Linked DNA regions of Homo sapiens. The protein of the gene in region 2 purifies or fractionates together with the protein of the main gene of each other region. This does not show direct contact. Each region holds a gene or a part of one and is shown on either strand. Other genes may lie near its edges.

Region 1 (3,500 bases), about 83 Mb from region 2:
TGTTCAAGTCCTTATATAAATTGTATCGTATTTGCATATAACTTATGTGCATCCTTCTGTATAACTTAAATCATCTCTAGATTACTTACACCTAATACAATGTAAATGCTATATAAATAGGTACACCATATTTAGGGGACAATAACAAGAAAAAAAGTGTGTACATGTTCAGTACAGATGTAGCTATCCATTTTTTTCCCTGAATATTTTTGATCTGAGGTTGCTTGAATCCACTAAAGTAGAACCCATGGATACAGAAGGCCAACTGTAATATGAAATCCTGTGTTTTAAAAGTATGTCTTTATATATTCAAGTAAAAAAAAATTAGATTTACCATAATATCCATGTAGCTGAATTCATAATGTATACTTTTTAAAGACAACTTGTTTTTCTCTCTCAGTTACAAAAGTAGACTACAAATATCTAACCCACTAAAACAGCCTTAATCTATATTTTAAGATTAGAATCCAGGTAACCTGGCTTTGTATTCTACTGACTATGCCATTCAATACAATGAAACCTTCTGAAGGTCTAAGTATTAGTCATTTATTCACATCCTACTCTCTAAGAATAACCAAGTGGCAACCCACAACATTTTCAATAACATCATTAAAATAATGTTTACTTTCTGGCAGATATACTACAACTCACTAACATTTTTAATGGTTTTGCTCTTTTATAGTTACCAGACTGGGCTATTTACTTAAATAATGATTATTTACTCACCTTCATCCTCACTATCTTCTGCAGTTACATTGCCTTCACTGGTAATGGCTTCGTCATAACTATCCTCAGTCTGAGAGTCTGTAATTTCACCTTCCTCTGGTTCACTATCAGTCTCCATGATTTTCTCATCTTTAAATGATGTTGAATTAGAGATGTTTTCATGAAGAGGAGACTCTATAGTATTTCCACTAGTTGGAACAGTGACTTTGGGGGGACTATTTTTGTGATGAATGCCTATTTTGGCCTTCTTTTTCATATTTGCGAAATTTTCTTCCTCATTGCAGCTTGTATGTTCAACACTGAAGGCTTTTTGATCCTCTGAGTTCAAATCCTGGAGAAGGGTGGGTAGATACGAGGGAACAGGGGAGAATACTCTTAAACATCACTATCTTATAACATTACATCAAGTTTCAACGAATTCGTGAAGATATGTGTCAGTAAAATAACAATGGTTACAATCTGTTCCCCCTCTCCTTCTCACATTTCCTTTCTTGGTTAATGATATTACCATCTTCTTATTATCCAAATTAAAAATCCTATAGTTATCTCTGAGATCCCCTTAACCATATATAAAATTACGAAGTGCTACAGACTTTTCTCAAAATATATCCAAATCTGTCTCTCTATTCTCAATGTCTTAACATTCCTAGTTCAGGCCCTCATCACATACTGCCTGGACTATGGGATAGCCTAGACCAATGGTGTCCAATAAAAATGTAACACAAACCATATTTGTACTTTTACATTTTCTAGTAGCCACATTTAAAAAGTAAAATTATTAATGAGATAGTTTACATAGTCTGCAACATCCAGAGTGTATTTTACACTTAACAGCACATTTGAGTTTGGATTAGCAAAACTTCAAGTGCTCAACAGCCACATGGAGCTGCTGGCTACCTTACTGGATAGTGCAGGCCTAAAGAATACCTATTCTAAATTTTCTTTTTAAACTGGTAATCAATTAGCTAGTCAACACAAATAAAATACAGAATTAGCTTTACTTATGACATGAATTTAAAGATCCAAATGTACTCAATATGTAGCAAAATTGTAGTTTTGCTAAAATTTAGTACTTCAGATTCAGCTTGATAATACATAAAAGTTTAAAGTACAAATTAACTGTGACTATCTTATTCCAAAATTTTAACTTGCCTGGCATAAGTCTTTTATTATTTATTGTACATTTATAGTTGATATGCCTTATAATAAATGAACATTTTTTAATTAACAAAAATGATGTATTTTTATCATGTACAACATGAAGTTTTGAAATACGTACACAATGTACAGTGGTTAAATTGAGCTAATTAACATGTACATTACCTCAAATACTTATTTTTCTGTGGTAAGAAACTTAAAATTTGCTCTCAGCAGTTTGCAATAATACAACACATTGTTATTAACAATAGTCACCGTGTTATACAATGGTCAAATCTATCATTTCAGCCTTAGAAAAAGTAAATAATTATTTTCCATTTTTTTCCCTTGGTTTCTAACGCACTCTCACTTTTCTTTCTACCTCAGAGCAACATGAGGCGAATTCATATGCTCTTCTGTTATTTTATAAAATATGAGAGCATCTCACACACCTTTCTTTCTTTTTTTTTTTTTTTGAGACGGAGTCTCGCTCTGTCGCCCAGGCTGGAGTGCAGTGGCGCGATCTCGGCTCGCTCCAACCTCCACCTCCCAGGTTCAAGAGATTCTACTGCCTCAGCCTCCCGAGTAGCTGGGACTACAGGCATGCGCACCACCATACCCAGGTAATTTTTTTATTTTTAGTAGAGATGGGGTTTCACCATGTTGGCCAGACTGGTCTCGATCTCTTGACCTCATGATCCATCCACCTCACATACCTATCTTTGATAACAGCGTAAGTTCAGCTTGGAGACTGGCTAAACATTCACAGTGTGATAAATTATACACACTTCTAGCAATACAAATTCACCCAGAACAAGAACAAGGGCAAGGAGCTGAAAAACCATGAGGAGCTTTTACATTATAAAATTATAGCAAAAAAGTTCCCTATCTGTATATACTCTTAAAAAAGCAGTTTCCAATCTTGTATATTTATTACTTACTGAACAACATATGCAGGGAAAGCTATTTGCCAGTACAGAACATTAGATAGTCATTAAGTGAAAAGAAAGGAGGGCTTATTTATGGGCACTGAGGCACATATGTATATTTCAAATTATTTACTCCTATCTCCCCTACTGTCTTCCTTCCACATAACCTTCACCTACAAAAAGTGAGGCTCAAAAATATCTTTAAAAATAAAGAAAACAGATGAAGATACTCTCTTGGCCTCACAGGTACCTTTTAGAATCCTCAGGAAATTCTCAAAATTCCAACAGGATTTTTCTTAAAAGTTCTTGTCGAGTGCTCAATGGTGCCCAGGCTGGAGTGCAGTGGCGTGATCTCGGCTCACTACAACCTACACCTCCCAGCCGCCTGCCCTGGCCTCCCAAAGTGCCGAGATTGCAGCCTCTGCCCGGCCGCCACCCTGTCTGGGAAGTGAGGAGTGTCTCTGCCTGGCCGCCCATCGTCTGGGATGTGAGGAGCCCCTCTGCCTGGCTGCCCAGTCTGGAAAGTGAGGAGCGTCTCCGCCCGGCCGCCATCCCATCTAGGAAGTGAGGAGCGTCTCTTCCCAGCCGCCATCACATCTAGGAAGTGAGGAGCGTCTCTGCCCGGCCGCCCATTGTCTGAGATGTGGGGAGCGCCTCTGCCCCGCCGCCCCATCTGGGATGTGAGGAGCGCCTCTGCCCGGCCGAGAC
Region 2 (3,500 bases):
ATTCAAGTCACCACCTAAATTTTTATATATTTAAAATGAATAACTTTAAATTAATTTATTTCAGAAAAGGTCACTGAACAAACCTATCTCTTTGGGATTCCTTGTAGCCCTAGACCTATTACTCTATAAAGAGCAGGAGTTACACAGTGTTTGAACCAGGCATTAATGTAAACTGAGCCAAATGGCATCAGTAGTAAATTGCAGGGAGCAAGCCCTGACAAAAACAAGCAGTTGCCACAGAACTCTAGATGACTGACTCTTACCAGGCAGGCGTGGGGTTACCATATATTACAATATTCAAGAAAAGATGAAATCCAGATTTTTATATGAAATCTTATAATTTTAAAATGATACCTCTAATTAAAAAAAAAAGGCAGTGTGACTATGACTTCAAAGGAATAAGGGTGAATAGGTCAAATCATAACAGTAAAAACTGAAGTTGGGTTAAAATAAAATAAAATTTTCTGAAACAAATTATCCATTCCCTTTCTACTACTCCCAAATGCTATGGGAGGCAACTATAAAATAGGTTCATGGGCAAGCTATAGCTTGGGGCCATACATTTCTAACCTCACAAAACCAAAAGCTTTGGACACTAATCTGTCTTCATGCTTCCAATATCTTTTGCTACCTAAGTCAGGGAGTAAAGGACCAATATAAGAATCAAATAAGAAGAAACTGCTGGCAAGTATGGCTAGCACACTATTTCCTTTACTCAATATTACAATTATAAAGGTAGCCTATACAGTAGTACTACTATTATAAAAATGCTACCATTTTTAAAGTGCTTCAAGATTTGAAAAGTAGAGCTGCTAGAGATACAGCAAAAGGACGATTCTTTAAAAACCCCAGGAAAGCAGGGAATTTTGCTCACCAAATCAACTTTGGCATACTCTTCAACAATTTTCATGTGTTCTTCTGGATTGTAGCCATTCCACCGATCCCTCTTCCCATCATAGTCAAACATCAGTTGAGGCTGGACATGTTCATCTGGAGCTATATTAGTACCTGTAAATTTGGCTCCAACTCGCCTAGGTCTCTAAAAACAGAGTAAGATTTAATCTTTTCCTAAGTTTTTATGGCCCAAAGGAAAACTTCATACAACTTTTACAGAGTGGGCACTTTACGATCTATTCAATTTACAGTTAGTCTTACAGTAGAAAATTTTGTTGGTGTTGAACCAATTCCACTGAAACTAATTTTTATTTAACTTGTACCTAAATATAGGTGATTTCAGAAAAAGAGAAGTTAGCTCTCTGACAAAGAAAAAAGAAAGACTCTGACAACGGTTTTCAAAATTTTCAAAGGTGAACTTACCTCAAAGCAGTCTTTCTTTTTGTGTGTCATGGCCCCACAATTTTCACATGCTCCTTTGCGGTACTTAGTAATTATGGAATTCTATAAATATATATAAAGAAAAACAAAAATGTCTTAACCACGTAAGTTAGAAATAACTTTGACTCTCATTACTATTTTGTCTAGGGAAATGATTTCTTTGTTAAAAGGAAAATAAGTTAGAGTCTCCACACATTTATAAATGTGAAACTTTAAAGAGTTCAGGAGTGTAAAATTTATATAAGAAACACAAAGATAAAATAGTAATGCACTGTGAATTTCAATACCAGATAAAGGGTTTTATTATCTGTTTCTACTTTAAATAGTATTGCATTAAAAATTCTTACATTAAGTTCTTAAACTCTCCATATCCATGAAGATGTATACAGGTTGCCTACATACCTCTTTTACACCCCTCTTGTACCATTCTCCAGATGAGCTGAACTGCTTTTGTTTTTCTGGTTGTGGTCTCTGGTGTTTTAAAGTAGGTCTTTTTGAAGGATCAATATACCATGGCACTGAAGAAATATACTGAGGAATATGGGGGTTGATGTCTCTGTAATTAAAGTAAAAAAAAAAAAAATTTAAGGATAAAATTGGAAAATAATCAGTATTACAATTACAAAGGTAGCTTATACAAAATCTAAGAACAGAAATATTGCAGTGGTAGGGGGAAGAGAACAAGGTTGCTATCTCTATACTATAATAAAGAATAATTAAAAATAAAGAAGTAATTTATTTTAGAGTGAAAATATTTCCAACTAAGAAACTAAGAATAGTGATATAACTGAAGGGGGACAAGAGAGGAAGGAAAATAGAGATGTGTGTTAGTAATCTAAATCTTCTATCACAAGAAGTTTTGGTTCAAATAATGTCTATAGTCAATTAATTAAAATAATTGTGTAGGTATTATTATCTAGAGATGTGACGGTAACAACCAGAAAAACTCAAAATAGAAAGATTTCATAGCAGTCACTTCTGTAGAGCAGGCCAGGGGTGGGAACGGTAAAAAAGGACTGTTGCTATTCATTATAAGCCCTTCAACATAATTTCATTATTAAACCATATGCATATGAGTTTGATAAAATAAAAAACAAAAATGACATAAATGAAGAGAGGTTCCTCTCAAAGGATGAAAAATTAATAAACTAAGTAGACATGAATTTGAATTCTGAATGAATGGATCATACAAAAAATTAAGTACTTACTTTCCTTCTTCATCAACTTCTGCAGGAGCATTGCCCAATTTTCGCTGTTCTTCTAGCTCCTTCTTCTTTCTCCAGTCCTCTCTGGTCATCTTCTTTGGTTCTTCCAAACTCATTTCTTTGGACCCCGATAGGGGTGCAGCATTAACTGCATCTACAACTGTGGCTGACATGGTTATCTGGCCTCCTCTAGGAAAAGAAGTGAAACTTACAGTAAAAAGTAGGCCTTCATGAATTCACTCAAACTACCAAAAATACATCCTAATAATATATACTGTTTCATATGTTTTTTTTTCTCCTATATTATGTGTAAGGAAGGGTCTCTTCCCCCTCCTCAAGGTCTCTACATACTGTTAGCACTGTTTCTCTCTCAACTCCAATTTACAAATGGAGAGAGACACACACGTGTATTTAAAATTTCACAGGACTCTTTTCTCATATCCATCCTTAATCCCTCTTTCTGTGTATGTCTCAAACTTTTCTAACACAGTAACTCTTAATGAGAGAAAAGAGGGTCCTATCTCTGTACCCCTTCAAGAATGAATATCTCAAGAGTTATCTATATTCACTGCCTCCATTTCCTCACCTTCTATTTTCATCCTCACTCACTCTAACTTAGCCCTCCATTCCCTACCATTCTAAAGAAAAGAGTTACATCATTAAGTCATCAAGGACCATTGTGCTAAATCCAATGGACATTTTTCAGCTCTGTTCCTTCCCTTTTTATATATTATGTCTTGACTTCCCTGACACTACATTCTCTTGGTTTTTCTTTTTCTTTTTTTTTTAGAGACAGAGTCTCGCTCTGTTGCCCAGGCTGGAGTGCAGTGGCATGATCTCAGCTCACTGCAACCTCCGCCTCCCAGGTTCAAGCGATTCTCCTGCCTCAGTCTCCCGAGTAGCTCGATTACAGGTGCCCGCCACCATGCCCGGCTAATTTTTTCGTATTTTTTGTAGTGA

Evidence for each region. Proteins that work in one complex are often made in the same cells at the same time.
Region 1: the proteins of SLU7 (region 2) and AGGF1 purify together in Homo sapiens (affinity purification with mass spectrometry; one large-scale study listed by BioGRID and IntAct). This does not show direct contact.

The regions. Positions count from the first base shown.
Region 1 is NC_000005.10:77,043,904-77,047,403, reverse strand, and holds part of AGGF1 (angiogenic factor with G patch and FHA domains 1), read right to left. Parts: intron 1,058-3,500; coding exon 727-1,057; intron 1-726. UniProt on the Homo sapiens protein: Promotes angiogenesis and the proliferation of endothelial cells. Able to bind to endothelial cells and promote cell proliferation, suggesting that it may act in an autocrine fashion.
Region 2 is NC_000005.10:160,412,582-160,416,081, forward strand, and holds part of SLU7 (pre-mRNA-splicing factor SLU7), read right to left. Parts: intron 2,730-3,500; coding exon of another isoform or gene 2,714-2,729; coding exon 2,544-2,713; intron 1,892-2,543; coding exon 1,738-1,891; intron 1,399-1,737; coding exon 1,318-1,398; intron 1,040-1,317; coding exon 875-1,039; intron 1-874. UniProt on the Homo sapiens protein: Required for pre-mRNA splicing as component of the spliceosome. Participates in the second catalytic step of pre-mRNA splicing, when the free hydroxyl group of exon I attacks the 3'-splice site to generate spliced mRNA and the excised lariat intron.